Regions from separate parts of the Homo sapiens genome. Here regions 1, 2, 3, 5 and 6 are each linked to region 4. The links come from fine-mapping of genetic effects on gene expression. A gene starts in region 4. Each other region holds a variant in brackets. All regions are shown on one strand. Distances are between the middles of the regions. Region 1 overlaps HPSE (heparanase). Region 2 overlaps HPSE (heparanase). Region 3 has its middle 370 kb from the start of GPAT3. Region 4 holds the start of COQ2 (coenzyme Q2, polyprenyltransferase). Region 5 holds the start of LOC105377313 (a long non-coding RNA gene). Region 6 has its middle 25 kb from the start of COQ2.

Evidence for each region. PIP is the estimated chance that this variant, and not a neighbour inherited with it, causes the effect.
Region 1: its variant is fine-mapped to the expression of COQ2 in whole blood (INTERVAL, PIP 0.95).
Region 2: its variant is fine-mapped to the expression of COQ2 in whole blood (TOPMed, PIP above 0.99).
Region 3: its variant is fine-mapped to the expression of COQ2 in T cells (TOPMed, PIP 0.99).
Region 5: its variant is fine-mapped to the expression of COQ2 in whole blood (TOPMed, PIP above 0.99).
Region 6: its variant is fine-mapped to the expression of COQ2 in whole blood (INTERVAL, PIP above 0.99).

What each region holds. Positions count from the first base shown.
Region 1 is chr4:83,325,716-83,331,193 of GRCh38, forward strand. The region is part of intron 1 of HPSE (heparanase); the gene reads right to left. Among named protein-coding and RNA genes, the nearest start is that of HPSE, 6.4 kb to the right of the region's middle. The variant T/TGCC (reference allele first, on the strand shown) is at 2,964.
Region 2 is chr4:83,319,953-83,325,430 of GRCh38, forward strand. It overlaps HPSE (heparanase), which reads right to left. Exons shown (of 12, transcript NM_001098540.3): 2 at 2,267-2,412. Among named protein-coding and RNA genes, the nearest start is that of HPSE, 12 kb to the right of the region's middle. RefSeq lists a silencer at 1,447-1,640 and an enhancer at 3,184-3,478. The variant T/C (reference allele first, on the strand shown) is at 2,581.
Region 3 is chr4:83,899,089-83,904,566 of GRCh38, forward strand. No RefSeq gene overlaps it. Among named protein-coding and RNA genes, the nearest start is that of GPAT3, 370 kb to the left of the region's middle. The variant A/G (reference allele first, on the strand shown) is at 2,919.
Region 4 is chr4:83,283,118-83,288,415 of GRCh38, forward strand. It overlaps COQ2 (coenzyme Q2, polyprenyltransferase), which reads right to left and starts at 1,681. Exons shown (of 7, transcript NM_001358921.2): 1 at 1,395-1,681. The coding sequence starts at 1,647. RefSeq lists enhancers at 1,084-1,323, 1,519-1,813 and a silencer at 1,384-1,713.
Region 5 is chr4:83,309,752-83,315,229 of GRCh38, forward strand. HPSE (heparanase) reads right to left here. Exons shown (of 12, transcript NM_001098540.3): 4 at 3,363-3,536; 5 at 971-1,139; 6 at 280-327. LOC105377313 (a long non-coding RNA gene) reads left to right here and starts at 4,343. Exons shown (of 3, transcript XR_938944.2): 1 at 4,343-4,368. The variant T/A (reference allele first, on the strand shown) is at 2,081.
Region 6 is chr4:83,256,754-83,262,231 of GRCh38, forward strand. No RefSeq gene overlaps it. Among named protein-coding and RNA genes, the nearest start is that of COQ2, 25 kb to the right of the region's middle. The variant GAA/G (reference allele first, on the strand shown) is at 2,233.

The sequences.
Region 1 (5,478 bases), 43 kb after region 4:
TAGACCTTGGGCTGAGGGTAGGGGGTTGGATAGAGAAGGTTTTTCAGGGGAAATGGTTTCACTGCTAGACATTCAAAAAGAATAAACCTTATCTAGATTAAAGAGAGTGGGGTAGGATTGAAGAAAGCATTCCAGGTGAAGGGAAAAGTCTGTCCAAAGACCAGAGATAGAAGAGAAGCTGGCACCATTGACGAGCAGAAGGGTGTGGTTGGTGCCTAGAGATGGGGGCAGAGAGGCTGGGAGAGAACAGAATGGAGAAGCAAATAGGGCCACATCACGGAGGGCCCCGTAAGCCACATGTCCAGGAGTGCCAACTTTATATGAGGGCAACGGTGAGCCATGGAAGGATCTGAAGCAGCTGGAGTGACCTCACCAGACTAAGAACAAGACTCTGGTCATGTTAACGTAGACAAAACGTGATGGACTGAGGTAAGGTAACAGCTCAGAGATGGAGAGAGATGGATAAATTCAAGACACACTTAGAGGTAGAAATAATAGATTTGAGTTTTTAAAATAACTTTTTTTAAATGAGACAGGTTTCACCTTGTTGGCCAGGCTGGTCTTGAACTCCTGGCCTCAAATGATCCACCTGCCTCAGCCTCCCAAAGTGCTGGGATTATAGGCATGAGCTATTGTACCTGGCCTAGATTTGATTATTAATTGGATGTTGAGGAGGAGTCAAGGATTACTCCTGGGAAGCTCCTTGGAAGATGGTAATATCATTTGCTGGATGAGGAACAGGTGATAGACTGAAGATGGGGAGGAACAGGGAGGAGAAGGGGCACTAAGTTTTGTAGAATTTGAGATACCAATGGAACACCAAAAAACATACTTCCATCCATCAGGCGCTTCGCCCTGTGTGTCTGGAACTCAGGAGACACATACAGGCCGGGAATATAGACAGGCGAGTCCTCAGTAGAAATGTCAGGGACTGGCAACCCCTAGCTCACAGGTCACAAGGTATGGCCCTAAAACCAAGATGAGGAACTTCCTCAGAGAGAACCACTCCAGGCTGGCCCTGTTCCACTGCCTTCAGCCAGGCACTGATTCTGTTCCTTGGCATTTTGATTGGGTTTGATGATAGAGGAACCTCATTTAGATTCCTCTAGCTGTATTTGTAAGCAGTCGCGGCTGGGCAAGAGACTGGGAAGTGGGAGGAAACGAGCACCTGGAAAAGTTGCTGTGGCATCACATGACGGGCATCTGTGAGTGACCTGGGTCACAGCCTGGTCCTTAGAGGTACAAACTGTACCACCTTGGGTCACTCTCCATCACACTGCGCTGCCTTCATTTTCTTCATAGCATTCATCACTCTCTGAAATCAACTTCCTTTTTCATTTCCTTGGCTTACTCTCTATTGCAGCCCCCATCTCTGCTGCAAGCTCCCTGAGAGCAGGGACCTGACTGACTTATCAGAATCTACCCGATACCTAGATAAGTACTTGGCACACCGCTGGTGTTTAATAAATACTTAAGTGAATGAATGAGCAAGGCCCGCCTGATGTAAGGGTAAGTCGCTGCCAGACAAAGACTTTCCTGAACAAAATGAAAACCCAATACTGTTTGGGTTTACCACTTGGACACTGCCAAGTACAAGAAATCACATTTCAAAGTTTTGGTATTAAGGACCTTTTTGTTTGTCTCCTTTGCAATGAAATATTTTCTTGTTTTGAGAAAATAATATTGACGCCCTCTGACAAAAACTAGATTTAATATGGGTGCAAAACATGCCATAAAACTAAAACTGATCAAAGGTACAGTATTTCAACCATATACAAGAAAAATAAAGGAAAAATAATCCCACCACCACAGTGACATGGAAATAACAGATGAATGCATAAAAGAAGCTTCAGCTATTCTATTTCTAGAGCAGTTTGTTAAGGAAAAAAAGGGGGCCTGCAGGTGTTTTTATTTTACCTTTTGTACAAAAATAAGTTACTTCTCTCTGACACAAAAGCAGAGGTGTGCTGGAGTTGGCTGTACCACGTTGTTGGCCTGTGAAAGCCAAATGTTAAATTTGGAGAAAATTTGTGAGCCAGTTGTTAAACTGTTGGCAGTTTGGAATTGGCCATGGAGGGAGTATTTACACCACAGAAATCAGCAAAAACCATCAACCAGTCTCCCCTCTTCCCAGAGAGCCAGTTGTTAAACAGTTTCCAGCACAGTACTGCATGAGCAGTAATTTAAGTAATTTCTGGAAGTGGGTGAGACCACCCAGGGGAATATGTGAAGTGAAAAGAAGGCCTAGGTCAGAAGTCTGAAGAACACCAATGTTTAAGACAAACTAGAGAGAGAGAGATGGAGAGGAATTGTTAGAAAACACCCCCCAACAAGAAAGGCGACAGACCTAAAGGGGTAAGAAAGTGCTTCCATTGTCAACCTTGCCAAATGCCTCCAAGAGACTGTATTAGTTTGTTAGGGCTGCAGTCGCAGAGTACTGCAAACTAATTGGTTTGAACAACAGAAATGTATTGTCTTACAGTTTTGAAAAGCCGAAACGTTGAATTCAAGGTAGTGGCAGGGCCATACTCCCTCTCTAGGCGCAGGAAAGGATTTGTTCCAGGTCTTTCTCCTAAGTTCCCATAGCTTTTTGACTCCAACTCCATAACTCCTGTCATCACATGGTATTCTCCCTATGTGCGTGTCTGTCTCCAAATTTCTCCTTGTTATAAGGACATCAGTCATATTAGATAAGCAGCCCATCACATTCCAGTATGACCTCATCCTAACTAATAACGTCTGCAATGACCCTATTCCCAAATAAAGTCACATTCTGAGGTACTGGGGGTTAGGACTTCTAATATGGATTTCGGGGTAACCTCATTCAACCCATAACAAAGACCAAATAAGATAAAGTGTTTATTAGGTTTCCCAACAAAGGAAGGCCATTGATGATGTCGGAGAGATTGATTTTAGTGACACAATGATGGTGCCATCATGAGGGCAGAACAGGAAGAACAGGC[T/TGCC]GCCGAGGGGAGGGAAGAAACGGGGTGGTTTCTGCAGAGGCATGTGCGAGGAGGTAATTGAGATGGGAAAGGCTTGGGGAAAGGCTTGGGGAAAGGCTTGAGGAAGAAGCCAGTAAAATGGGAGGAGTTGAAGATACAGGAGAGGGAAGAGGTGACTGATAGAGCGAAGTCCTTGGGGGTTGGGGAGGGGACGGGATTCAGGGCAGAAATGGAAGAAGCAGACTGAGATCAGAGAAAGGAGGAAAGCTGGACTTAGGCATGACATGTCTGCAGATTTGATGACAGGAGGAAAAGGAAAAGGAAGTAATTGCTCATTTTCTTTGGGAAGCAGAAGTATGGTCATGTGCTAAGAATGATAAGGTGAAGGTGGAGTCAGAGATTTTTAAAAAGTAGAGAATGTGAAAGGCAGAGAAATGGAGAGTTAAGGGTAACACTAAGGGCCAGGGAAGTCTGGAAGCTAAAAAATGTTTGGTGCAACATCAGTCTGTGTGGCTGGGAGACTGTCCACTCCCTCCTCCCGCAAGAGCTCAATAGCCCAGCTATACAGGGTGGCCACTGAGACTGGAAATGAAGCATTAAAATGGCTTATTAATATACATTAAAATTAATAAGTAATATTTTTCCATTTCCAGGTTTTTGGGCCACCCTGTAGATTCCAAAGAGAGAAAATATGGTTGGACTAAACCAGGTTTAGTATTTTAGCAGGAAGAACAATGGAACAGGGATTTGGGGTTATTATTACAAGAGTGGTTCACATGATAAATTAAGAAGCTCAAATCAGATATGGAAGAAGTAGAGAGAGGAAGAAGCTGTTCAGTGGAGGTATTTAAAAATTGTTATGATGGGTGCTATGGAGTAGAAGAGCTATGGTCTGGCTCTCAGAAAAAAAGGTGCTCTGCTTTTTAGTATTTGCCAATTTCCATGGTAAATATTCTCACCATGGCTGATTTCCAGATACCCACAGGATGTCACTGAATACAGAGTTGAGATGAAATGCATACATTTCATGAGCTGGATAAGCTGGTTCTGTTACAACTTGAGTGTAACATTATCTGTTATAAAAAAATGTGAGTGAAGAAACTGAGACAGTTTATCTAGGTGACTTGAAGTCATCTAGGATGATGGTGAGACTAGGAAGTGGAGAGGAAACTGTGAGATCAGTGCCAGTCTTCAGTTAATAAGGGGGAGTAAGTAAGAGGGGGACAGAGTGCCGTAAGCAGGAGCACTGGATGAGAGCCAGATGTGGAGATGAGGAAAACACACTGAGTCATGGCATCACCCGTAATGCACATCAGGCTAGTCTACACTGAGCGTGTAGGGAAGCTACCCGCCTTCTTTCACTCAATTTCAAAATAACCCACTGAAGCAAATGGCATTATTATCGTCATTTTACAAACAAGGAACCTGAACAAAAGGAGGTAATTTGCCCAAGGTAACAAGTCAAAAGGGACTTGAACTATAGCAGTATGGAGTTCAAACTAGTGGGCTGTCATCCAGAAGCCAGACTGGAGAACAGGAAAAGAACTGGACTATGGGAGAATATGCAGCCATTACTCAAAAGGGCTACAGGGAAGACAGTGTCATCAGAGAATAGCCAAGTTGTAGCTTGGACAAGGAGGTAGAGGAGATATTCTGTGAGGAGGACAGAGCAGGTAACCCTGCAAAGGGCTCCAGGGCACAGTGGACAGGGTTAGTGGGGAAGGCAATAATAAGAGCTCAATCAGAGGGACAGCACTTCCCAGGAGTTAGGAGACATGAGGTGTGTGATTGTCCCCAGCCCTTTGTTTCCCTTTGGCTGTGAATATTTCTGCCATCAATAGGCACATGGGGAGTCTGCACCTCTTTCCAACACTGGTTATCAAAACGTGTGTTTAACATTGATAAGTAATTTTCTAAATGTGAAAAGCAACTCTGTCTATGAAGATGCAAGAATCTAATATTGAAAGTTTTTATCAGTAAATATTTATTGAATTGGCAAAAATGGATGAACTTTGCTGAAGGAAAATAAGCAAATTGCAATGAAAAGCAAGCATGGTTGCATTATCACTGAGATTGCTGTTCGTACCACTTTTGCTCTGCAGTATTTAGGATTTCTACCACCGACTCAGCACTATACTTTTTTTTACCGTGCATTAGTGAACTATGCTTGTATACGTGTCTTAATTGAAATGCAGATCTGTACTGTCCACTACCATAGCACTAGCTACATGTGGCTACTGAACGCTTGAAATATAGTTAATCTGAGGCCGGGTGCAGTGGCTCACGCCTGTAATCCCAACACTTTGGGAGGCCGAGGTGGGCATATCACCTGAGCTCAGGAGTTTGAGATTAGCCTGGCCAACATGGTGAAACCCTGTCTCTACTAAAAATACACAATTAGCCAGGCGTGGTGGTGCATGCCTCTAGTCCCAGCTACTTGGGAGACTGAGGCAGGAGAATAACTTGAACCCGGGAGGCGGAGGTTGCAGTGAGCCGAGGTAACGCCATTGTACTCTAGCTTGGGTGACAAGAGCAA
Region 2 (5,478 bases), 37 kb after region 4:
GAGGTTGCAGTGAGCCGAGATCACGTCACTGCACTCCAGCCTGGGTGACACTGGGCGACAAAGCGAGACACTGTCTAAAAAAAAAAAAAAAAAAAAAAGCTGGAAATTACCAGAGAACTCTAATGAAGAAAACATAGTGCAGTTCTCTTAAGGTTCACTTTCAAAATCCATAGCAATTTGTTTTACATGGACTGTATCTGCAGTGTGGTGTTTTCCTCTTGCCATCATGGGAGGTAGGATGGGTGGGAACCGTTGACTTTTTTTCGCTTTGAATTTGGTACCATCAGAGCTTCTGGGACCACAACATGTGCACTTGAAAAAATCCACCCTGGTCAGGCACAGTGGCTCACGCTTGTAATTCCAGCTCTTTGGGAGGCCAAGGCAGATGGATAGCTTGAGCTCAGGAGTTTGAGACTAGCCTGGACAACATAGTAAAACCCTGCCTCTACTAAAAATACGAAAACTTAGCTGGGCGTGGTGGTGTGTGCCTGTGGTCCCAGCTACTCGGGAGACCGAGGTGGGAGGATGCCTTGAGCCTGGGAGGCAGAGGCTGCAGTGAGCCAAGATCCCGCCATTGCACTCCAGCCTGGGCGACAGAGCCAGACCCTGTCTCAAAAAAAAAAAAAAGAAAAAAGAAAAATCCACACCATCCTGTCAGGCAGACCATTTCTTTATCACAAGACAGCAGGGTTGCCGGGTGCTGGCTGCCAGGGCCGGCTGACTGGCTGATGACTTCCTTTCTGGAAAGCTGCACACTGACTCGCTGGCGGCTGGTGCCTCATCCATCCCTGGGCTCACAGAGGATGTTTCAGAGGAACTTGCATAACCCCAGTTTCCCCCACCGACCATCCCCCTAGACACAGGATGAAGAAAACTGATGAGCAAAGGACAGTTTCCTGTCTACATTTATGAGATCTTTTGGACACAAATGACTGGTGGGAAAGGGCCAAGTCTAAATAGAAACTAGGTTGGGTGTGGTGGCTATGCCTATAATCCCAATACTTTGGGACGCCAAGGCAGGGGGATCACTTGAGTGCAGGAGTTTGAGATCAGCCTGGATAACATAGAAAGACTGTCTCTACAAAAAATAAAAAAATTAGCTGGGTGTGGTGACATGCACCTGTGGTCCCAGCTACTCAGGAGGCTAAGGTGGGAAGATTGCTTGAGCCCAAGAGGTCAAGGCTGCAGTGGGCCATGCTTGTGCCACTGCACTCCAGCCTGGGCAACAGAGTGGGACTCTGTCTAAAAAAACGCCCCCAAAACAAAAAACAAACCCATAAACAACTCCAACCTGGTATTCAAAGATAACCCATCTGTCTTTTTCTATTTTCTCTGATTACTATTCTGTCAATTTAGCCCCAATTACTGATGAATTGTTCTAAATACTTCATAACTGGATAAAATAAACAGAAGGAAAAGATATAATATATGAAATAATCAAATATTCCTCATAATGAATATATACGTTATATACACATTATTATAATTCAGTGGTGTATACAATATTTTCAGTATTTTTTTCTCTTTAAATTATTAAAAAATAGAGACAACGTCTCTCTATGTTGCCCAGGCTGGTCCCGAACTCCTGGGCTCAAGTGATCCTCCTGCCTCAGCCTCCCAAAGTGTTGGGATTACAGGTGTGAGTCACTGCGCCCATCCTAGTAATTGTTAAGATACGATTTAACTTCCATTTGATGTCTGATAGCACTTCTGAAAGACAGGACAAATTTTCATGGCCCCCTAGGGCAGGTTTCTCAGGTGAAGGCCACAGCCTTTCAATATCAGAATCCCCTGACAAGCTTGCTAAAATCAGAATCTAACGTTGGAGCCCAGAAGTCCACAGATCTCGTTCACCCATATTCTATATTTAGAATAAATATCCTTCAATCTATCATTGTGTCTTTGGCTAGAAATGCTCTTTAGTTTGACGCGATTCTACCCACTTGCTCCCTCCAAGCAGTTCTATCCTTCAGCTACAATCACTGTTTTATTAATATTTACTGTACAATGAGCTCTCAGTTATATCCAGGACGCCTTTTTTTTTTTTTTTTTTTTGTGAGGCCTCACACTGAACATGACAAACATCATGATAAGGAAACCTGCCCACTGCCTCCTCCTCTTGTTCAGATTCCTCCACAGGTCAGATGAGGGGAGAGGAAGTTAATCTCATTAATTGTTAGGTGTGAGAAATAACAGTTTTCTCAAAGCATTCTCATGACGGACTGACGTTAATTAAAATATAGAGTGAATCTTTAAAAATTTTCACCCTGGTTGACTTGAGATTGCCAGTAACTTCTCTCTTCAAAGGTTGATTCCTTCTTGGGATCGAAAATTAGGAAGTCTGTCTTGGTGCCACCAAACCTCAGGTACGCAGGAGACAAGCCTCTGGCCAAGGTACGAAGCTTTGGAGAACTGTTAGGAAGACAAGCAAGAAAGTATAACTATTTTTTCCAAGACAATCTAGTCAAACATTCTTACTTCCTTCTTTCCTGGTGGACCTATTTCTTAACATTTCCCTGTGCAGGACTTAGAGGAGGAAATCACATTGTTTTGTTTTTGAGACAGAATCTTGCTCTGTTT[T/C]CCAGGCTGGAGTGCAGTGGCGCGATCTCACTTCACTGCAACTTCTGCTTGCCGGGTTGAAGCAGTTCTGCTTCTGCCTCCTGGGTAGCTGAGATTACAGGCAGTATTGTTTAATTTTTATTTGTTTTCTTATTGGGCATGATAGAAAGGGAATCATTGTTTAAAAGAGGAAGCATCTCAATCTGAATCTAATTGAAGGACTGATCTTCTAGGAACCTGAGGGCAATTTGTAGCTCTAATTCTGGCAAGAGCTTGTTTGTGTGTGTGTGTGTGTGTGTGTGTGTGTGTGTGTGTGTGTGTGTGTGTTTGTGTGTGGAGGGATGGGGTCTTGCTATGTTGCCCAGGCTGGTCTCAAACTTCTGGCTTCAAGTGATGCTTCTGCCACAGCCTCCCAAAATGCTGAGATTACAGGCATGAGCCACTGTACCCAGCCAGGAGCTTATGTTTTAACTTGACAAGTAGGATGGTGTTCAACACTTAAAAAAAACTCATAGCCTTTTATGATGGATGGGGAGAAAGAAATGATAGAATAGAAACTAAGGGAAAGACAGCTCTGTGTCTGTCTGAAAAATAGATCGTCCGAAACTATGGGACAGTAAAAAGATCAGCGGTTACCAGGGGCTGGGGGTGGAAATGCAGAGAGGGAGGGATGAATAGGTGGAGAACAGGGGATTTGCAGGGCACTGAAAATACTCTGTATGTTACTATAATGGTGGATACATGTCATTATACATTTGCTCAAACCCATAGAATGTACACCGACAGTGAACCCTGCCGTGAACTATGGACTTTGGGTGATAATGATGTGTCAGTGTAGGTTCATCAACTAGAACAAACACCTCTCTGGTGGGGATGTTGATAATGAGGGAGGCTATGCATGTGTGTGGGCAGGGGGTTTATGGGAAATCTCTGTCCTTGCATTCAATTTTGCTGTGAACCTAAAACTGCTCTAAAAAATAAAGTCTATTTAAAACACACACACACACACACACACACACAATTTGGTGAATGACTTTTTAAAAAGTCTTCACACACCTGTCTTTCCAGAGAAGTTTATAAATGACTTAGGATCTCTTCTCCTCTTCTTAACTCCTGCCTCCCTTCACCATTCCCCACCAAGGAAAATCATTCTTTTGTATTTAAGTCAAATGACTTAGAATTATATAGTATTCTAATTCCCATCACTGACACCTCTAATTTGAACAATTCTAAATGCATATTCTGTCAAGCCAAAAATGCTCCAAATGGGTGCCTATCATGTGCTTAGAATGGTACCAAATGCTAGAAAATGGAATTAGAATGATCTATAATCCCTTCCCTCAAAAAGATGAGGATGTTCATAAATATTTACATGAGCAAAACTAAGAAAACAGAAGACCTGGGTAAGAGAAACACCTGTCATACATTTCTGAAGTATCAAACATGCAATGCTGGCCACACTGCTTCCTGGAATGCTCTGAAAACATATTAAACCAATGCTAGCAACTCTTGGAATGGCCTAATTAGTTTGTCTACATGTAGGTTTATTTCAAGTCAGGAAATTATTCCTGGAGCACTGATTGCCAATACTTCTTCTTCTTCTTTTTTTTTTTTTTTTTTTTTTTTTGAGACAGGATTTCATTCTCATCATCCAGGCTGGAGTACGATGGCGTGATCTCAGGCCATTGCAGCCTCCACCTCCTGGGCTCTAGCAATTCGCCCACTTCACCCTCCCAAAGTGTTGGGATTATAGGCGTGAACCACCACACCTGGCCAAATTGCCAGTACCTCTTAATATCCTAGGAATTAAAGATCTGATCTAAAATTTAAAGTTTTAAGATGTGCTCATGCTTAATTAAATATGTATAATGCTATGTAAAATTTTCAAAGTATTTCTTTATGCTTAGGAAATAAACTAAAAGATAGAAATTGAACAAAATGTAAGTCTCTTGTGTTAAAACTTCAGTGATTCCTCCTCACCATATTTTTGTTTGTAACTTGGGAGTCCCTAAAAATACGGTGGGCTCTGACACTAGGAACCTCAGAATAAAGTGAGATTTTAAAATGTTATCAACCCGAATTCACCCTGACTGAAATACCTGACAGCCCCAAAGAGCTCTAGGAAGGATGGCATCTGTCATGGCATCCTCAAAACCACGGCTAAATAAATGGAAATGCTAATCTGAACTAAGTAAGGAAGAAGCAGCTATTTTCAGTTTGGTACAAACCCAAATAAAAATAAATTGTAGGGAGGGGAAAACAGAGGATGCACTATTGTTTAATGGGTACAGAGTTTCAGTTTGGGAAGACGAAGAAGTTCTGAGATAGATAGTGGTGATATTTGCACAACAATGTGAGTGTGGTGAATGCACCAAACTGCATACCTTAAAATGGCAAGATTTTATGTTTTGCGCATTTTGCCACAATAAAATAAATAAATAGTACTCATAGTGTAATTTTAACAATAAAAGAATATATATTTATATACAGGAGAGAATTATGCCAGGATGATAGCAATGGTCATTATGTGGTGAGCTAGATGGTAGACTTTTTCATTACTTTCCTGTATTTTACAAGTGTTCCATAACAAGCACGTTATATTTTAAATTATACAACTTGGTGTGTGTGTGTGTGTGTGTGTGTGTGTGTGTGTGTGTGTGTGTGTGTGTGTGTTTTGAGACAGGGTCTCTGTCATCCAGGCTGGAGTACAGTGGCATGATCTCGGCTCACTGCCACCTCTGCCTCCTGGGTTCAAGCGATTCTCTTGCCTCAGCCTCCCTAGTAGCTGGGACTATACGCACCCACCACCATGCCCAGCTAATTTTTGTATTTTTATTAGAGATGGGGTTTCACCATGTTGGCCAGGCTGGTCTTGAACTCCTGACCTCAGGTGATCCGCCCACCTCAGCCTGCCAAAGT
Region 3 (5,478 bases), 620 kb after region 4:
GATGGATGATGTTAGTATACACCACGGTGTGGTGATGTCATGGCTTCCTATTCACTTCTACTGCCTTTGCCCTTCCTAACATCGATGTCTCTATTAAACACTCAATTAAGTATGCTGAGAGAAAACTTTCACTTTTTAAGCAGCCTATATGGGCATGGGTTTACTTTTTACCATCTCTGAAAATTGACATATGGCTAAATCATTTCACCTCTGGTGGCAAAGATATATTGGGCTACATGCTCCTCTAATGTGAGAAAGGCAAATCCAATTTAATAGAGGAGGGAAAGAAAGGAATGGTGATAAATTCCTACATAAGTGGCTCATGTTGGCATGAGATTATCTACTATCCTCTTATTTGTCAAGTTAAAAAATTTGAGATTCAGGGAGTTGGAGTCACTTTCCACCACACAGTTTGTGGCAGAATCAAGACTCAAGTTTAGGTCTTCAGAACAAAACTCAGTACATCATGTCCTTGTTGTCTTCTGGGCTCCATTTCTGAGACTCACCAATAGCTTCAAGACCAAGGTAGACAATTTGCTATTTCATACGTTACTTAGAAAATGTCATCAATCCTTTTGTGTGGGGATAAGTGGAAATGTCAAACAATCTTAAATTGGCAGACTTTCCCATAATTACACAAGTTAAAGTGATCATGACCTAATGAAAATACTCCTTGGGTCCTATCAGTTGATTTTGAGACTCAGTAATCAATTACATATGCTGGTGATTTTGCTTTCTAGTGGCCAGATATATCTGATTCTGTTTATTTAGTGGTCTTAGTGTAGGAAGATGAATCTGAATCTGGGATTGCCATTTTGAATTTTTCCTCTAACCCTCACTCTAGATTTTACAAGGGGGATTTTCTTTCCTTTTTTGGATTGCAGATGTGAGTGTGTTAAAGTTTCTAGGGACAGAAAAGATAAGTGGCTGCTGCTTTGTTTTCTCTTGCTTCCTCTATATATGAAACCATTCCAATAGATCTGCAGGAAGAGATTTAGTTGCAGATGGCAGAGGTCAGTGTCTTGTGTATTCAATGTAGTCAATAATAAAGTCAGGACTTATGCTACCTGAATGTTAATAAGGAAGCACAAGGACCTTGGAAAGTCATTATGTCTGGTCATTTGCTTCATAATATTACTCCAACAGGCTCAGGAGGCCAATGCAAGGAGATTTTTAAACAAGTAACAAGAAAAGGCCAGAAAAATAAGGAAACAATTGAAATGTTGCAGAAATTGTAAGGTTCATGTAATATACTACAGCTCGGCAGAAGGAGAATTTTAAAATGTAGTTTATGTGTAGCAGAGGGAATAGTATTATTTCTTATTGAAGGAAATTTGGTCCTTATCCAAATGTACATGTTATGTTTTTCTTGTCTAAATACTATGATTCCTTCTTAATATGTATAATGGGCTTCTACAGGCACTAATTACAGGTACTTCAAATGAAGTTAGTTACATAAAACTAGTAACTTTCTTCATGGGAGAATATTTATGCATCACTGCATTTGCATAGGTAGGGAGGAAGAAACTTAGATTGAGTGACTGGTATAGGAAAAGTAAATAAATGTAAACCAGCATCTGTCTCTTATTCTCTGTGTTTTCATCTCAAATTTCATTTCTTCCCAGTATGAAGATTAACACTGTATCTATGCATTTAGTCCAGGCTTGGGTTTTACCCTTTGTTTCTTTTCTAATTCTTCTTTCTTTATCCTCAATGGACATTTATTTCCATAAAGCTAAGAAGGAAGCCACAGTGGTGCAAGCAAAACACACACACACACACACACACACACACACACACACACACACACACACACTAAACTTGTCATTATACAATGGTAAGGACCAGAGAAGTACTATCCATTGCAGCGTTTGCAAGGAGAAAACATCCCAGTTCCTCAGATGAGGCAGGAGCACAGCATGATATTTTGTTCCTACTAATTTGTAAGTCCTAGGAGATCTTCACTTTATCAAAGGCTGCCTATCACCTAATGTGAAAAAAGAATCATAAAATGTTAGATTTTAAAGTAACTTAATATTTCTACTACCTCCTCTTGTTTTTATATATCTATCCATCCATGCATCCATCCATTTATTCAATGTTTCTAGAACCTCTGTACTAGAACTGCAGATTTGAAAATGCAGCTCTTGAGAACCGCATTGTCTAGTGAGAGTACAGACATAACAACGTTAGAAATATGGTAACTCCTATGTCAATAGCTACACATACAAAGTGGTCTAGAAGCACAGAGGAAAAAGTAGCTTAAACTCAGAGTTCCGAGAAGTGACATTTGAAGTAGATTACAAAGGGTAATGGGTTAAAGGCATGAGAATAAGGACAATTAAGGAAATCATAAAGGGAGAGATATGGAGACATGTTTGGATAATGATGAACAGAAGTGAGAGGCTTGGCAGTTGTGTGGAATGGAAGTGGAGGCTGAAAATGTTCTCCTGAGCCACATGGTGCAGGCCTTGTTTGCCTGGCTATGGTGAAGATAACCTGAAGACTAGAGCCATTGAGTGTTTCATGATGTCTTGCAGAAGGTAATGGTGGAACCATGATGAGACTTAAGGTCTTATCTTCCATAAAGTTCTCTTTAACAAAGGATCAAATCTTGTTACCTCATTTTAGCAGAAAGGGTGGAAATAGTCAAACTCAAGTTCCTTCTATTCTTCTAGAAAATCCATGCCTAAAATTCCCACACACATGCACATAGATATAAAAAAAATCCAAAACAAGTGTAGAGCTTAATGAATTATTTTGAGCCAATGATCATTGTAACCACTGTTCAGGCCAAGAAACAGAATATTTCCAGTCACTACAGAAGTTCCTTTAGGTACCTGATCCTAATTACAATGTCCTCTCTTACTTTCTGTTAGTCCCTATTTTTACTTACTTGAATTTCCTTATGGTTTATT[A/G]CTCAAGTATCAGTCCTTGGATACTACAGTTTAATCTTGCCCATTCCTTTTTAACTTGACGTCTCTTTTAAGTCCTGTTTATCCTATAGGCCCCCTTCACCCTTTCACTTTCTCATAACTTACCTGTTGAAGGACTTGGGTTACTTAGCTGCAGAGTTACCTGCAGTCTAGATTTTGCTAATGGCACACTCAAGGGACAATTTAATAACTTACTCTACCACTTTGATTTCCTAAACGTTGTCAGCTGCATCTCAGGCTTGATCCCTTTGGTTTTGTGTCACTTCACTGAGAGACATATCAAATCTGGTTTTTGTTTCTTTGTGATGTCAGCGGCTGTTAAGTCTCAATACTTAAATGTATTCCTTCACTGGGGGCTAAAAAAGAGTGTTTTTCTATCATTTTGTTTTTTCTTATTCGCTGAAGAAGATTTTAAAGGAGGTGAGTCCCCTTATCTATCATTTGTTTATCTAGTGACAGACTGCTGTCTTTTTACTTAATTTAAGATCAATTGGTTCATATGAACTCATGGATTTCAAACATAATTTAAATGTATTTCTTGGTTTTCAATCTGTTGGACTGCTTATCCTTATTCGAGTTTACATTGTTTCATCTTTGGCCAGTGAGATCCTGAGGAATTGATTTCTGAGACCTTTTGCCATGACCCTAGTAATCTTACATGGACTCTTTGCTATCCATTTGATATGTCAAGATGTTTCAGGGTCATCTTGTACATTTTCTGATGCTGACCTGAAAACAGCTATATTTTGAAAAGCTCTGCTGCTTGATTGTTTTTTTTTATAGAGATGGTTTTTCAAAACCACAGCCTAAGTACGAGAGAGCCTTATTTCTACTTGGTTGATCATTGTTTCTTGGCCTTTTCAGTGGACAGAGCTAGGACACACACATACGCACTTTATAATATGAATAATATATGCATTATATATTGTATTATGTAAATACAAAAATATAAAATATTACTGAAATAAATATTTTTAGTGTAAACACACAAAATACTTATAAATTCATACCAATATTTCCAATTTATATTTAAGCTTAGTGTGCTTTAATTTATCTGGATCTATATTATATCCTTGTCTTCTGAATTCTGCACCAAGAATTTTAGTTCTCAAGGGCACAGGAGTAATAGAATTAGGAAACCCCATAATTATTTGTTTTCCTTTTGTATACATACAATAGGGTGAGAACAACAATACTAATACTACCATTGCCAATTCTAAAAAAACTGAAAACAGGTTATCATTTGTTTTATATATGTTAGTCCTGTACTCCCCACAGTTTTTAATAATTTTACTGGATTTGTATTATTAGATCACATAGCCATTACATACTATAATTTCTCCCGTTTAATCCTCACTTAATTCTATAAATTGCTACATACTTAATGTTTTTCACCAGTCTCTACTGATCTTGGTTGTTTGAAGCTTGTTCTGTAGTAGATTCCTTGAGAAGTACTCGTGAGGAGAATAGAAACTGAACTATTATCGCTTGCTGTCTGTCTCCTGTATATTTGAATGTTAGTTTTTCTGAATATAAAATATTTGGTGCACTTTTTTTCTTGAGTGTTTTAAATCAGTTATTCAGTTTTCTTTTGGGATAAACTGTTGTTGAAAAGTCTAATGACAGACTAATAATCCAATCAATTATGTAAGTCATATGTTCTTTAGTCCAGATTCCAAAAGAATTTTTTCTTTAAATTCCTGTTCTTTTACAAGAATATTTATTTCTTGCTTTTTGTTATTCTGGGTTTATATTTTCAAGTATATATTGTACATTTTCAATATGTAGTTTCAAGTCTTTTTTATTTCAGAAATTTGTTTTTGAATTATATTCTTGAGAATTTGTTTTAGTGCTTATCAATACTGGTTTTCTTCTTCAGGTATTCATATTATCCGTGTGTTGGGTCTTCTTAACTGCTTCAATATTTCTCTCTTTTCCCACATCATTTTCATCTCTTTCTTCATTTGCTTTTGATGTTTAATTTTTTTCTCCTTTTTTCTTCTATTTATTTCAAAGTATTGTTATTTACTCATTTTCTTTTAATTAAGTCTTCACTTTTAAAATAATTGTTTCTTAATTTCTAATTATTTCTTGAGTGTTATCTCAGTCAATTATTCTAATTTTGATTTATGTTACTGTCATATTGTATTACTTTCTTAATGACTTTAAATCATTTTGAAGTATTATGTTACAGTTTTGATTGCTTTTTGAAATTTTTTTTCTGGCATGCTTTTCTTTTCTATAGTTGTGCTATGCAATATAGTACCAACTAGCCTCATATAGCTATTTACATTTTAATTAGTTAAAATTTAATAAAGTTAAAATTTGGTTCCCTGGGCTCATTAGTCAATAGTCACATGTGTCTAGGAGCCACTATGTTGGATGGCACAGATATAGAACATTTCCATCACCAGGAAAAGTTCTATTGGGCAGACCTGAACTATAAGGATGTTATTCTGTTTCTTATTTATCTTTTCTCTTATAGTAACTATCTAAGATATAGACTTCAATACATTCCTGCTGCTCATTTTCATGTTAATTT
Region 4 (5,298 bases):
CAGTAGGCTTTTATGCTTTGATAGCTGATTGTTATAACTTAGTGCTCTAATCCCAAATAGGTCGTGCATAAATCTAGAATACCAAAAGCAAGGCCTAATTCGGGTCTTGTACGGGCAAAAGTGGAGTAAATGTACCTAGGCCTTTGACTACATCTCCATACACTGCAATGGCAAATGTCATCATCTAGATTGGCTGGAGTTCATCCTTCACTTCTTCCTCCACGCTATCCAGCTTCTTCAGATATGTTCTTGTCTAGTCTCGTTTCCCATTTTCCACACCCACTTGGTGTTCCAGGTCAGGCTCGTATTCTTAGTGTTCTAACACTCCACCCTTGGGTCTTTGCAAAAGTACTTCCCGCACTAAGATCTCTTCCCTCCTCTGCAAAATCAACTTGTCCTTTGGAGTATAATTTCTTCTCGAAACTTTCCAGCAAGGGATCCACAGTAATTTCTCTTTTTCCTGTAGCACTTGCTTTTGTATCACTCATATTTGATCCATATTTTCCTAGCTCACCAAATAGTCTTTTTCAACTAGACCAGAGTTCCTTGAAAGCAAAGGGTTTCCATAGCTTTTTCTATCTCTATGGCCGGACAACGTAGTAGGAACTTATTAATTCACTTAACACTACTGGAGAAGCCAATCAATCAACAAGCGCATAAGGTTAGTTAGTGGTGAGTGCTATTAAGAAAAATTGCGGATAAAGCGATAGAAAGTGAGGTTGGTAGGTGTTAATTAAGATAGGAAGGTCAGGAAAATCTTTCTGTCGGGGGCGATTGTAAGCTGACAGGCAGTCCGTAAGCGCTGTCCCTGCTGCGTTCAAATGAATTAAATCTTTGCCTTATGGGTGATGCAGGTAAAAGAGCTCCGACTCAGCATCAAAACACAGAGTTCTTCTGGTCTGGCTCTGACGAGGAGCCTTAGTTTCCTCAGCGTCTTAACTGTCTTAAGGATTGTCTTTGTGGGCCTTACAAGATTGCGGGGAGGATCAAACATTCTAATAAATGAAGGAGGGCCACGAGAACGGAACCTTCCGCTTGAGTCACCATTTAAACAAGTGTTTGTGGAATGAGAATTATCTTGCCCGCTTCAGGTGCTCAGGATGCAGACAGACGTGAAACTGGCGGGTCCTTTAGGAGACTGTCCCGACTGCGTGTCCTGAGGTGACTCGCCCCAGGGCGCACGGCAGCCGGCAGCCAAGCTCAAGCTTTCAGGCTCTCATTTCAAAGTGTCCCGAGGTGATTCGCCCCAGGGCGCACGGCACCCGGCAGCCAAGCCCAAGCTTTCAGGTTCTCATTTCCATCACGCCCCGGCCGGCCGCCGCGGACAGCTCCGCGGAGCCGACTCGGAGGCTGCTACTTGCAAATTCCCGGGCTGCCCGCCCGCCCGCACTCACCAATGGGCTTGTCCAACCGCATGAGGCGCAAGTACGGCTGCAGGGGGCGGGGCGCAGAGTCCACCACCGCCGCCGCGGACAAACTGAGCTGGCGCCCGCGCGGCTCGGGACAGGCGGGGGGCTGCAAGTCACCACCGTGGGGCGCGCCTGCCGCACGCGCCAGGGCGAAGGAGCGGCCCCGCCAGCCCGGCAGCCACGCCAGTGCCACAGCCCGCAGGCCCCGCGCGAACCCCGCGGCTCGCGAGCCCAGCATGGCGCTGGTGAGGCCGGGACGAGCTCGGATTGACGTCATTCCCCGGCAGGCATGCGCAGTGGCACCCGCAGGATGCAATCCTAGTCTGCCAGGCTGGGCGGCGGTGTGGGCAGAACCTTTCCTCATCCTTACTTGTGAAATTGGGGTCATCGTGGTCGCTTACTCTAGGGAGGAATACTTAATGAAAAAGGGATTTCTATTGGCAAAAGGCAAAAAAATTACAATAAATTTAGTTGTAATTTTTTACAACTCGATCTTGATTGACTTTGTGGTTCCATTATCGGGCAACACTCAGAACGGGGTCTCTGAGGAAACAAACAAAAAATAGAATCGGGCAACACCTTATTCTGTAAAATAGAATAAGTGTTCCAAAGAGTCGAGCGGAGGAAGTTGGCTTTATAGACAGAAAAAGGGCTGAAGAAAGCAGAAGCAGAGAACAAAAAGCGGATTGGTCACTTCAAATTACTTTCATTGCGAGGCGGGGACAGGGAAACAACAACAGAGAAATAACGGATTGGTTAACATTAGGTTACACCAGGTTAAGGACTAAAACAGGAAACTTAATTGTCATGACGATTGCATTTTGAAATGGCCTGGTTGGAAAATTGGCTGTTGTCTCTCTTTCCTGACTTCTCAGAATGTCAGATACAACTTAGTTTTAGTTTGGTGACTTGGAACTTTAGCATGGGTGACTCTTGATTCTTAGTCTGATCTGTTGGGACCTAGTGCAGGAACTTAGTTCAAAACAATGGCCCCCTATAATTTAACCCTATTATCAGCTTTCTCCATAAAATGAAAAGGATAGTGTTTATTCATATGGAACAGTTGTACCAGGAAAAAAAAAAAAAAGCTTTGAAAAACCTACTGAATCCAAAAGAAGAATTTGCGTACACGTTTAGCCATAAAAAAAAAAAAGGGCACCAAGTGGCCACATACAAGACTGTAAATTAAAATCGCATTCAGGGTTAAGGGATGTTCATTACACAAGTGAAAATTTTAAATTTGACAGCCCTTCAAAGGAGTTTTTGTAATCAGTAGACAACCAGCATGTGTGATGCTAAGAACCTGAAGCTGAAAAGTCTGGTCAGCAGAGTCTTGCTCTGTCATCCAGGCTGGAGACCAGTGGAGGGATCATGGCTCACTGCAGCCTCCACCTCTTGGGCTCAATCGATCCTCCCATCTCAGCATTCTAAATATCTGGGACCACAGACACGAGCCACCGTGGCTGGCTAATTTTTAATTTTTCATAGAGAGGAGGTCTCACTATATTGCCCAGGTTGGTCTTGAACAGCTGGGCTAAAGAGATCCTCCTGCCTCAGATGGTCAGTACTCTTATTCATAAGCAACTCTGTATATCGCTGTGTGCCAGGCACTTTACATGTATCAACTCATTTAACCTCTCACTGAGTAACCCTAGGCAAGTCACTCATCTGGATTTTAATATTCTAGGAAGTTGACTTAGTCTTTAGGCTCCTTTCTGTAAAACATGTACAATGATTCTGTGACTTCTTGCATGGCTCAAGTACAGCAAGTTGGATGCCTGGCCACTTTGGTGCAATGAGGCAGGGGGTACCTAGCCTTTCTCCTGCCTGCAAAGAATAAAGGCCAGCAGGCAATTTAGTAACACTCCTAGTTGTTAGATTGGAGATGATTTAGATCTGACTCAAACCTGAAAAGGGTGTAATATCAGTCATGTATTGCATCCATGACTTTCCAATATAGGTCCAAACTCTTTGTTTAAAAAAATATATTAAGAATTTCAAGATGGCAACAGCAGGACATTAAACCAAGTACAAGGTCCTTCTTAGCGTAGGCCCTGGGTGACTGCACATGTACCCATGATGCTGACCCTGCCCAGAGGTGATTCAATCCTAAGATATTTGGTCCAATTAAAGTGCACAGGAAACTGAGATGGGTACCCACATGTCACTCTGCTAATTTGTAGGACAAGAGAACAGTCACATAGAGTAGAGCCCTAACTTTCAGGAGTCTCCTCTAGACTAATGCCAAGGCACAGTATGCCCTTGGGAAAGCCATTTAACTGCTGCAAACTCTTCAGAAAAGGAAGGGACTAGGCTTTCTCTAAAAGGGCCTGTAAGGCTCCGATTCCTCATTTTGTTTTTTGTTTTTTTTGAAGTGACTTTCTTTTTTTTTAAAATTTTATTATTATTATACTTTAAGTTTTAGGGTACATGTACACAACGCCAATTCCTCATTTTGGATTGGGCAGGAACTCATTTTGTTTTAAACCTATTACCCACAGGAACTGAAATGGTTAATTTTACATGTCAATTTGGCTAGGCCATAGTGCCAAAACATTTGGTCAAAAATTATTCTGGCCAGGCACTGTGGCTCACACCTGTGATCCCAACACTTGAGAGACCCAGGTGAGAGAATTGCTTGAGCCCAGGAACTCAGGACCAGTCTAGGCAACATAGTGAGACCTCATCTCTACTAAAAATTCAAAAATTAGCTGAGAATAATGGCATATGCCTGTGGTCTCAGCTACTTGGGAGGCTGAAGTGGGAGGATTGCTTGAGCCCCCGAGGTTGAGGCTTTGTGAGCCATGGTCATGCCACTGCACTCCAGCCTGGGTGACAGAGTGAGACCCTGTCTCAAAAAAACAAATAATAAACCTCTCATCTTTTTTATGGTGGCCAGAAGAATGAATTACAATGACTGACAAGGCTTTGGAAACAAGACAACCCCTCCCCACATCACAAGGACTGAAAAAGGTAATCAAATAGATTTTGCAGTATGTTCGAAGGTGGTAAGTGGTATGGAGAAAAGAAGAGTAACAGGGAAAAGTAGGGACAGGCTGTATGTATACTTAAATATGGTAATTGGGGTGGTAGGACAGCCCTGATCTCACTTTCTCAAAGACTTGAAGGAGATAAGGGAGTAGCTATGAGAGATCTGAGGGAAGAATATCACTAGATACTCTTAGAGGGATGTCTAGTGCAAGGGCCCTAAGATGGGAGCAAGCTTGAAGTGTTTTCTTAATAAGAGCAAGGAGGCCAGTGTGGATAGAGTAGAGTGAGCAAAAGGGAGAGAGATCAGGGATGAGAGCAGAGAGGACTAGGGACCAGGTTGTGTGGGGTCTTACATACCGTGGTAAGGACTTTGGCTTTTCTCTAAGTGAAATAAGAGGGAGCCATTGGAGGATTGTGAACAGAACAGAGACATGACCTGACTTCTATTTTATTTTATTTTCCTCTCATAGTTCTTGTCTCATACTGACTTATATTTTAAATAATTACTCTCAATACTGGGTTGAGAGTAAACTGTAGGCAAGCAGTGAGATAAGTAGGGATATTAGTTAAGAGGCTTATGAAGCTCAGGTTGGTAGCTTACACTTGTCATCTCAACATTTTGGGAAGCTGAGGCAGGATTGCTTGAGCCCAGGAGTTCAAGACCAGTCTGTGCAACAAAGTGAGACCTCATCGCTACAAAAATCTTTAAAAAAATTAGCTGGGCTTGGTGGTGCACTCCTTTAGTCCCAGCTGCTCAGGAGGCTGAGGTAGGAGGATCACTTGAGCCCGAGCGGTCAAGGTTGCAGTGCACACCACTGCATTCTGGCCTAGGTGACAGAGCAAGACCCTGTCTCAAAAAAACTAGACAAGTAAACCATTATTCTGGTTGTTTCTATGA
Region 5 (5,478 bases), 27 kb after region 4:
TTGGCAAGCAATTGGTTTTAGCTACTTATATGTTCCATGGGTTAATTGGCACTGTTCTTCTGTATAAAGTGATCTTTATAGAAACCACTACATTATTTAAAATAACTTTAAATTTTTTTTATTAATATTAAAATTGGAGTACAGTGCTACTTGAGACACTATTTGTTTCTTATTTGAACTGCAGTCAATTGGCAGTTAAATGAACTAACTTTTTGAATACTAGGTAATAAATAAAGCTAGCCTTACTTTCCTAGTATTAAGAATAGGAGACATACTTACTGATGCCATGTAACTGAATCAATCACTTCTCCACCAGCCTTCAGGAAGCTAGAAAAAAAATTTTATTATCACTCAGTCATATAATACATATATATGCACAATATACGCATGAGAGTTTTATTCCCTAGAAATGGGCTGGTTACTGCTTTAGGATCAGGTAAACACAAACTTCCTAATTTTGATAGCAAATTTTATCATAGGTGACATTTGCCTCAGATCCCTTGATATTCTGAACCCGTCAAAATTTCCTTTTTTTGGTAAATCATGTATTCAGGCAGCAGATTGTTTAATAACATGTGGACTATTGAGGATTGTCTACCAGAGAGAATCTTTTTTTTTTTTAAGAAAAGTGGTGGCTGGGTGTGGTGGCTCATGCCTGTAATCCTGGCACTCTGGGAGGCTGAGGTGGAAGGATGGCTTGAGCACAGGAATTCAAGAGACCAGCCTGGGCAACACAGGGAGACCCCATCTCTACAAAAAAATTTTTTTAAAGTAGCCAGGTGTGGTGATGTGCACCTGTAGTCCCAGCTATTTGTGGGACTGAGATGGGAGGATTGCTTGAGCCTGGGAGGTCGAAGTTGCAGTGAGCCATGATTGTACCACTGCACTCCAGTCTGGCTGACAGAGTGAGACTCTGTCTCAAAAGGAAAAAGAAGAAAAGTAAAGTGATTCTGCATCCTCTAGTTCCTACCTCTTCAGCATCTTAGCCGTCTTTCTTCGAGGCTGACCAACATCAGGACCATAGAGTTTTGCATTTTTGAAGGTGGACTTTCTTAGAAGTTTATGCAATTGAATAAAATCTTCTCCTAACTGCGACCCATTGATGAAAATATCAGCCTTCTTAAGGAAACTGTTAGGTTCTGAAAGACAGCAATTCTCAAAATATATATCGAGAAATGTTGTATTTAAAAGCAAACATATAGCAGTATTTAAAAGCAACAAAACATTTTCCAAATTACAAAAACTTGTAATTCAAAGTCAAGAAAAGTAAAACCAGGTCTGGCGCTATGGCTCATGCCTGTAATCCCAGCATTTTGGTAGGCTGAGACAGGAGGATCCCCTGAGGCCAGGAGTTTGAGACCACTCTGGGTAACATAGTAAAGCCCTGTTCCATGGGGAAAAAAAAAAATTAGCTAGATGTGGTGGTGCATGCCTGTAGTCTCAGCTTGGGAGGCTGAGGGAGAGGATCACTTGAGCCCAGAAGGTCGAGGCCATAGTGAGCCATGATCACGCAACCGCACTCCAGCCTGAGTGACAGAGCAAGCGTCTGTCTCAAAAAATAAAATAAATAAGTAAAGTAAAACTCAAAGTTATAAATAAGATACTCCAGAAAAACAAAACAAAAATTTTAACTGTATAACTGAGATATGAGGGTCTATTAAACAATTTGAAGTTAATAATGAGGGTAATAAACCAATGGATATGGATATCTGGGAACTAGACTATATTCCATATCTAATAACTTCATTTACTTTGGAAAAAAAGGTTTGAGACCGGGCACAGTGGCTCATGCCTATAATCCCAGCACTTTAGAAGGCCGAGGCAGGAGGATTACTTGAGGCCAGGAGATCGAGACAAGCCTGGGCAACACAACCAGACAAAAGAAAAAAAATTGGCTAGGCATAGTGTAGTCCTAGCTAATCAGGGGGCTGAGGTGTGAGAGATTGCATGAGCCCAGGAGTTGGAGGTTACATTGAGCTATGAACACGCCACTGCACTCCAGCCTGGGTAACAGAGCAAGATCTTGTCTGAAAAAAAAAAAAAAAAAAAAAAGTTTGAGCAGGAAGAAGACTTGTGCTTA[T/A]CCTATTACTACATTTCATTTCCCATTTAATCCTTATTTCCATTGGCTGATATGTGGAAAAAGCACTCTATGTTTTGAATAAATGTGGCGAATCATGAATACTTATAGTTAAAATTTACAAGTTCTTTGCAAAAAAAGAGTGAAGAAGGAGACAGTCAGGAGCTTGACCCACGTAGGATTCTATACTGGCAAGTTCTAGACCGTTTGGGCAGGTAATGAAGGTTGCAATGGGGTTACTGAGATTAACTGACACATTTGAGAAAATGAGAAAGGAAGGGATGAATAAAACAAACTGCTGACTTCCCAGTTTTGCTGAGTCCAGCTTGCCAAGCATAATAGGGTTAAGTGATTCTGAAAATCTCAAGGGAACTTTGGAGCTGGGAACGTTGCTGGCTCCAACTGGTTCTCACTTCAAATGTAACATAAACTGGGATTAGCAATAATAGGTTCTGGAATAAATACAGTAGGAGTTTCTGCCACATGCACTTCCAAAAGTTGCATTGTTGAGCACTTGCAAGAATGTGCCCAGGCAGAAGTATATTTGCTAATAATAAAAAGAGTGTTGGCCGGGCGCAGTGGCTCACGCCTGTAATCCCACCACTTTGGGACGCCGAGGCGGGCAGATCATGGGGTCAGGAGATAGAGACCATCCTGGCTAACACGGTGAAACCCCGTCTCTACTAAAAATACAAAAAAATTAGCCGGGCGTGGTGGCGGGTGCGTGTAGTCCCAGCTACTCGGGAGGCTGAGGCAGGAGAATGGCGTGAACCTGGGAGGTGGAGCTTGCAGTGAGCCGAGATGGCGCCACTGCACTCCAGCCTGGGCGACAGAGCGAGACTCCGTCTCAAAAAAAAAAAAAAAAAAGTGTCATAAGAAATAATGCTAGCCGGGCCTGGTGGCTCACGCCTGTAATCCCAGCACTTTGGGAGGCCGAGGAGGGCAGATCACGAGGTCAGGAGATCAAGACCATCCTGGCTAACACGGTGAAACCCCGTCTCTACTAAAAATGCAAAAAAAAAAAAAAAAAAAAAAAAAAAAAAATTAGCTGGGCGCGGTGGCGGGTGCCTGTAGTCCCAGCTACTCGGGAGGCTGAGGCAGGAGAATGGCGTGAATTTGGGAGGCAGAGCTTCAAGTGAGCCGAGGTGGCGCCACTGCACTCCAGCCTGGGCAGCAGTGCGAGACTCTGTCTCAAAAAAAAAAAAAAAAAAAAGAAAAAGAAAAGAAAAGAAATAATGCTAGTGGGGGATCTCCTTATTAATGAATTGTTCCCTGGGGTACTCACCATTGCCTAGTTCCCAAGAAATGTTATACCCCTTGGAAGAGCAGTAGTCCAGGAGCAACTGAGCATTAGAACTGTTCCACTGCAAATCTGCTGTTCTTAATAACGCATTTAGGCCAAAGATCAAGTCCAGTCCTGAGCAGTTTGCAAAAGTGTATAGCACATCTACAGAGCTTCCTAAAAGAAAAACGTCACAATTTAATGGTTAGATTGGCACCACAATGAAGGCCTCCAGATTCGCTTTTCATAATGAATAACTATTTCTGTTGTTAAACTGAAGAAATTCTAGTTCTAATAAATGATTATAATTATGTTTTTGAGACAACAAAATTGGACAAATTAAAAAAAATCAATCTGACTTCATTTGCTCCAGCTGTTGAATGAAATCCCATGGAAGATACCAGAAGCTCTGGTCTGACACTTAGGTTTTGTTCAAGTGACATCAGGAGAATTGGGGAAGCCACAATTTATAGCTCAGTGCTCCACATGCATAGCCAGACTGTCATTAGTTAGCATAAACCCCACTCTTCATAATCTAAATATCTCTAGTCACAAGTTCAGTTAAAAAATATTTTGATAATTTTAATTATATTTAAAACAATTTTTAAAAAAATTCCTGTTATGATTTATTAATTTAAAATGAATCAAATTTTACATTAAAAAATTGGCCTAGAGTTATAGGACTATGGTTTCCAAACTCTGTGCAAGGCAAGCTGGGGAGCACCAGTGAATGCATGGGTACAGCTACAGGATTTAGCAACTAAAAGTGCAGGGCACCTAGTTAAACTTGAACTTCATATAGACAATAAATAATGTTTAGTGTATGTCCTATGTAACCATTAAGAAATACTTCGCACAGGGGCCAGGTGCAGTGGCTCATGCCTGTCATCCTAGCACTTTGGGAGGCCGAGGCGGGCGGATCACTTGAGCCCAGGAGTTCAAGACCAGCCTGGGCAACATGGCAAAACCACATCTCTACAAAAAACACAAAAATTAGCCGGGCATGATGGTAAGCACCTGTAGTCCCAGCTAGCTACTTGGGAGGCTGAGGTGGGAGGATCACCTGAGCCCAGGGAGGTCAAGGCTGCAGTGAGCCATGATCATGCCATTGCACAGCAGCCTGGGCAACAGAATGAGATCCTGTCTCAAAAAAAAAAACAAAAAAACAAACAAAAAAAAAAGTAAAGAAAAGAAAAATAATTAACATGAAAAAAATTATTTATCTGAAATTCAACTCTAACCAGGCAGTGCTATTTACAGAGGCACTGTAGGATCTTTTAAGTTTGCAAGGAAAAAAACATCAACATCTATTGGACAGCATTACTATTGGACCTATTACTATTAGGTTGTGTAGACCTTACAATTTAATAATCAAAATACAGGTATTTTTTGTGGCCTAGGCATGCTTTAAAAAGTTTTCTGCGATATTAAGGTGCCATAAGTTTGGGAACTTCTGTACTCTGCTTTTTAAACCATTAGCTGTTCTATTACCACTTTTTGAGAGTGGCAACAATATAATTTTAAGTGTTGTCTTTAAATTGATTATCATATGCATAATAAGTCCTTCCAATTTTCATGTATATCTATAGTCGTTTGTTAAAGAGTAATTCATTCCTGAACTCTTGTAGTTAAAAAAGAAAGATCTCTATCTATCTGGCAAACTTACACCCTTTCTCCTTAAAAGTGGCTTTTTGTTTTGTTTCTAAGTCTTTGGCCTGAATTACTTGAATAACTATAGAATAATATTAAATATTAGCTATTTAAGCTGAGTGCAGTGGCTCATGCCTGTAATCCCAGCACTTTGGGAGGCTGAGGCAGGTGGATCACCTGAGGTCAAGAGTTCGAGACCAGCCTGCCCAATATGGTGAAACCCCGTCTCTACTAAAAATACAAAAATTAGCTGGGTGCAGTGGCATGCACCTGTAGTCCCAGCTACTTGGGAGGCTGAGACAGAATTGCTCAAACCCGGGAGGTGGAGGTTGCAGTGAGCCGAGATTGTGCCACTGCACTGCAGCCTGGGTAACAGAGCAAGACTCTGTCTCAAAAAAAAAAAAAAAAAAAATTAACTATTTAATATTAACTATAAAGACCACTAGGCAGAAACAACTCTTGCAAGCTG
Region 6 (5,478 bases), 26 kb before region 4:
GGGTTTCATCATGTTAGCCAGGATGGTCTCGATCTCCTGACCTCGTGATCCGCCCGCCTCAGCCTCCCAAAGTGCTGAGATTACAGGCGTGAGCCACCGTGCCCGGCCTCAGCTTCCTCTTAAGTGAACAGTTCCTCATAGATGGTTTCTGGAAAGATAAATCCTTTGGAGAAGAAAAAGAGTGCTAAAAATGCCTGAAGGCAATGAATCACATACTGTGCTGTTAAAAGCTTTATATACGTGATTCATTCTACAAATATTTTTTAAGAATTTACTATGTGCTAGGCAGTATTCCAGACACTGGAAATAAAGTATGATGATTCAAACAGAAAATATCTGTGCCCTCATGAAGTTAGGTTCTTGTTAGTGAGGACACACAACAAAGAAAATAAGTAAAACAAATTACAGTCATGTGCTACACAGCAATGTTATAGTCAATGATGGACCACATATAGGACAATGGTTCCATAAGATTATATTGTATTTTCACTGTACCTTTTCTGTGTTTCTTTCTTTTTTTTTTTTTTTAGACAAGTTCTCACTCTGTTGCCCAAACTGGAGTGCAGTGGCGCGATCACTGCAGCCTCTACCTCTTGTGTTCAAGTAATCCTCCCACTTCAGCCTCCCAAGTAGCTGGGACTACAGCTATGTGCCACCACACCCGGCTAATTTTTGTATTTTTTGTAGAGATGGGGTTTAGTCATGTTGCCTGGGCTGGTCTTGAACTTCTGGGTTCAAGTGATCCTCCTGCCCTGGCCTCCCAAAGTGGTGGGATTACAGGTGTGAGCCACCACACCTAGCCCTTTTCTGTGTTTAAATATGTTTAGATTCACAAATACTTACCATTGTGTTACAATTACCTACAGCATGAAGTACAGTATGCTACGCAGGTTTGTAGCCTAGGGGCAATAGACTATATACCACATAGCCTAGGTGTGTAGTAGGCTAGACAATCTAGGTTTGTGTACATGAACTCTATAATGTCTGCACAGGGATGAAATTGGCTAATGATGCATTTCTCAGAAAGTATCTCCATCTGTAAGTGACATATGACTGTATATCATATGTTTTAATATGGAGAAAAAGCAGTGAGAGAGAAAAAGAAGTTTGTGTAATGGTGTGTGTTAAGTCTTAGAAAATGAAGACAATGGTTTCACTGAATCGGTGACTTTTGGGCAAATACTGAAGGAGGTGAGGAAGTATCCATGGCAACATCTAGGAAAGCATTCCAGGAACCCCAACGAGGCCAGAAGGCTGCAGCGGCAGAAGGCCTGCAGCAGCACTGGCGAGGGAGGGAGTGGAAGAAGAGCCAGAAGGCAGCAGGAGCCCGCTCACTGAGGGTCCTTCAGCCATGCTAAGGACTTTGGCTTTACACTGGGAGAAATGGGGAGGTATGGGGAGGTTCTGAGTTAGAGGAATGACATACGCTGGCTTTGGTTGTAGCAGGATCGGCCTGGCTGCTATGGTGAGGACACATGAAAGGGGGCAAGGGAGAAGGAGGGAGACCAGTGAGGAGGCTAATGTGTTAATCCAGCGGGGAGAAGATAGGGACTTGGGCCAGGGTGGCAGCTGTGGAGGTGGTAGGAAAAGATTAGATTCTGCATGTATTTTGAAGGTAGAACCAATATGCTTTTCTAATGTCTTGAATATGGAATGTGGGAAAAAGGAGTCATGGTTGATTCCAAGGTTTTGGTCAGAGCAAAAGGAAAAGGAGATGCCATTAATGAGATGGCAAGAAGGGTGGGAGGAGGAGGTTTGAGGCTGAGATCAGGAGTTCAGTTTTGAACATATTGAACTGGAGGTGCCTATTTGGCATTCATGTTGAAATATCAAGTAGGCAGTTCAATATTCAATTCTGCCAAGTGCAAGTTCAAAAGGGAAGTTTAGGCTGGAGGTACACATTTGGGAATAATCAGTATACAGATGACATTTAAAGTCAGGAGTTTAGATGAGATCATTTTCTCATGCAATTCTTAAAACACCAGCATGAGGTAGATATTATTTTAATTCCCATTTTAGATATAAAGAGATAGGCTGGAGAGGTTTAAATAGTTCACTCTAAGTCATTCAGTTAGTAACTGTAGGGACTCCAATGTTCATTCTTATCTCTAAGAGATAGTTTTCAACTTGGGCTCTGTGACAATCCTAAAAGAAAGGAAGGTTCAGTTTAAGGGGACTGTCTCTGATTTCCATCTGTACGTATTTGTTGGGGTTTTATGTACGATTTTATTT[GAA/G]AAAAAAAAAAAAAAAAAAAGTATTTATGCTGAGTGAGGTTGACTCACGTCTCTAATCCCAGCAACTTGGGAGGCTGAGACAGGAGGACTGCTTGAGCCTAGGAGTTCAAGACCAGCCTGGGCAACAAAGCAAGACCCTGTCTCTACAAAAAGAAAGAAAGAAAGAGAGAGAGGCCAGGTGCAGTGGCTCATGCCTGTAATCCCAGCACTTTGGGAGGCCAAGGTGGGCAGATCACTTGAGGTCAGGAGGTGGAGACCAGACTGGCCAACATGGTGAAACCCCGTCTCTACTAAAAATACAAAAATTAGCCAGGCATGGTGGCACGTGCCTGTAATCCCAGCTACTGATTCTGAGCTTTTTGAAGATAGAAACTCTAATTAATCTCTGTGTTTGCAGCAACTAGCCTGTGCCTGCACACAGATGTTCAACAAATGTTTGGACTGTCTGAATAATACATATTAATTGGAACAACTATAAAAATGTTAAATGTTACCTTCTCCATGGAAGAGATAGTTCAGTATAAAGCATGAAATCCAAAATCCCATCACAATTAATAACACGATAATCTTGTAAAATGAGAGCACAAGTCTGTCAGATATCAGATCTTGGGGATATAATCAATGAATGAGGCAGCGTACATCAACAACAACAATAACCAAATGGGCAAAGACATGAAGGCAACTCACACAGAAGAAATAAAAATGCTCTATAAACACTTTGAAAAAGATCAACTACTTTAGTAATCACAGAGTTGTGAGTGAAACCACATATTGTTCTTGCCTATGTGTCAAAGTTTTAAAAATAGTATCCTTTCATATTGGCCAAGGTCTGAGAAAGAGGCTCTCATGCACTGCTATTAGCAATGTGTAGCTTTCTGTAGGGTAATTTGAGAAAATGAATCCAAATCCTTTAAAATGTGCCTACCACCATACTCCACCCTCCATACCTACCCTCCAATCCCTGGAAATGTACATGCACATACAAAGACATTCTGCTTCTAGGATTTTTCCTACAGAAATATTCACAGATATGCCCAATGATACAAATCTATTCATGGCCGTACTGCTTGTGAGAAGGAAAAAATGTAAATATTAAAATCCATGATAGGATTAATTAAATTGCAGTACATACATATGATAAAAACCCATGCAGCCAAAAAACATCAATATATTGAAAGAAGCATTAATGACATGGGAAAATATTAAGTGAAAAAAGTAGATTTTACAAAAGAAGTATAGTATAACCTCTGCCTCCCAGGTTCAAGCAATTCTCATGCCTCCCTCACCCTCCTGAGTAGCTGGGATTGATTATAGGTGTGTGCTACCAAGCCTGGCTAATTTTTTTTGTATTTTTAGTAGAGATGGGGTTTCACCATGTTGGCCAGGCTGGTCTCGAACTCCTGACCTCAAGTGATCCACCTGCCTTGGCCTCCCAAAGTGCTGGGATTACAGGCATGAGCCACCATTCCTGGCCTGATTAATTTCTAAAGTTAAAAATTAGTTACTGTATGCCAGCACCTATATTAAATGTGTTGCATAGTCTCTAAATTATACATTAACCCTAAGAAATAGGTGTTACCATTGATACAGGGCAAATGAGCCCCAAAGTGGAGCTTAGTCCACGAGGGTTCTTGGCTTTGCCCAGGAAAGAAGGGCAAAGGGCAAGCCAGAGATAGAATAAAACAGCTTTATCGAAAAGGCAGTGTTACGCTCCAGTGTTGTTAAGAGTTGTGACTGCTCCTACAGAGCAAGGCCACCTGGTGGGCAGACAGCAGCATTACTTATATTCTTATATAGTTTTGATGATATGTACATGAAAATGTTTTTGTAACGTTACCTCACATAGTCAACTTTTTATGTTGTTGAACAGCATTAATAATTTCTTTTTCTTTTTTTTTTTTTGAGACAGCGTCTTGGTCTGTCACCCAGGCTGGAGTTCAGTGGCGCGATCTCAGCTCACTGCAAGCTCCACCTCCCAGGTTCACGCCATTCTCCTGCCTCAGACTCCCAAGTAGCTGGGACTACAGGCGCCCGCCACCATGCCTGGCTATTTTTTTGTATTTTTAGTAGAGACGGGGTTTCGCAGTGTTAGCCAGGATGGTCTCGATCTCCTGACCTCGTGATCCGCCCGCCTCGGCCTCCCAAAGTGCTAGGATTACAGGTGTGAGCCACCGTGACTGGCCAGCATTAATAATTTCTAATGGTTGCACCTAACACCAGGTCTGACAAGTAACTCTAATGTTAGTTCACCCGATGTACAAAAATTACAAATGTTTACTGAGTGCTTACAGTGTGGTATACTGGGGACATTTCAATGAATAAGACAAACAAGGTCCCACTGATCATGAAATCTCCATTCTCGCAAGGGAAGACAGAGAATTTTTAAATCCATGAGAAAGGTATTAGGATTATACCTATTTGAGTATTTGAGCCACCGAGAGGTCAGGGAACTTTCCCAAGAGCAACCAACTGGTAGGCAGGTGTTACAGCAGATTCCAACCCTGGCAAGCTGTCGTCATGATAGCGTTCTTAGTTCCTGCTCCACTGGCACCCAGAGGGTGGAGGGTGTACTTTCAGTTGGAGGAAACATTAGGGTGAGGCCAGATTATAAAAATCAGGTAGAGGCATTAAACAATTTAGCAAAGAAATCCGGGAAGAGGGAGAGGCAGCCCTTGTGATATGGTATATTGGGGATATTTCAATGAATAAGACAAACAAGGTCCCACTTACCATGAAATCTCCATTCGCAGGGGAAGACAGAAAATTTTGAAATGCATGAGAAAGGTATTATGATTATCCCCGAGTGAGCCACAGAGAGGTCAGGGAACTTGCCCAAGATCACCCAACTGATAGGTGTTAAAGCAGATTCCAACCCTGGCAAGCTGTGGCTGTGACTGGCATTCACAGCTCCTGCTCCACTGGCACCCACCAAGTGCTCTGGGAATTCAGAGGACAGGTCAGTTAGAGCTGGAATAGTTGTATTCATTTACTTTTTAGACCCTGTAGCTCCCATCCTATCTCCACCCCCATCATGAAATTGTGGTAGATAATTGTCCACAGTTTAAAAAGTTCTTTCACATGATTTCTATTGAAAAACTCACAGTGACTTTGAAGCAGAAGAGTAGGGCAAGGGCCCTCCTCACTGAATAAATTCCCACGGCAATGCTGGTCATTTCAACTATCACAAACTCCTGGCAATGCTCATTTCAACTCTCCTAGGGACTGACACTCCTGATCTAGATGG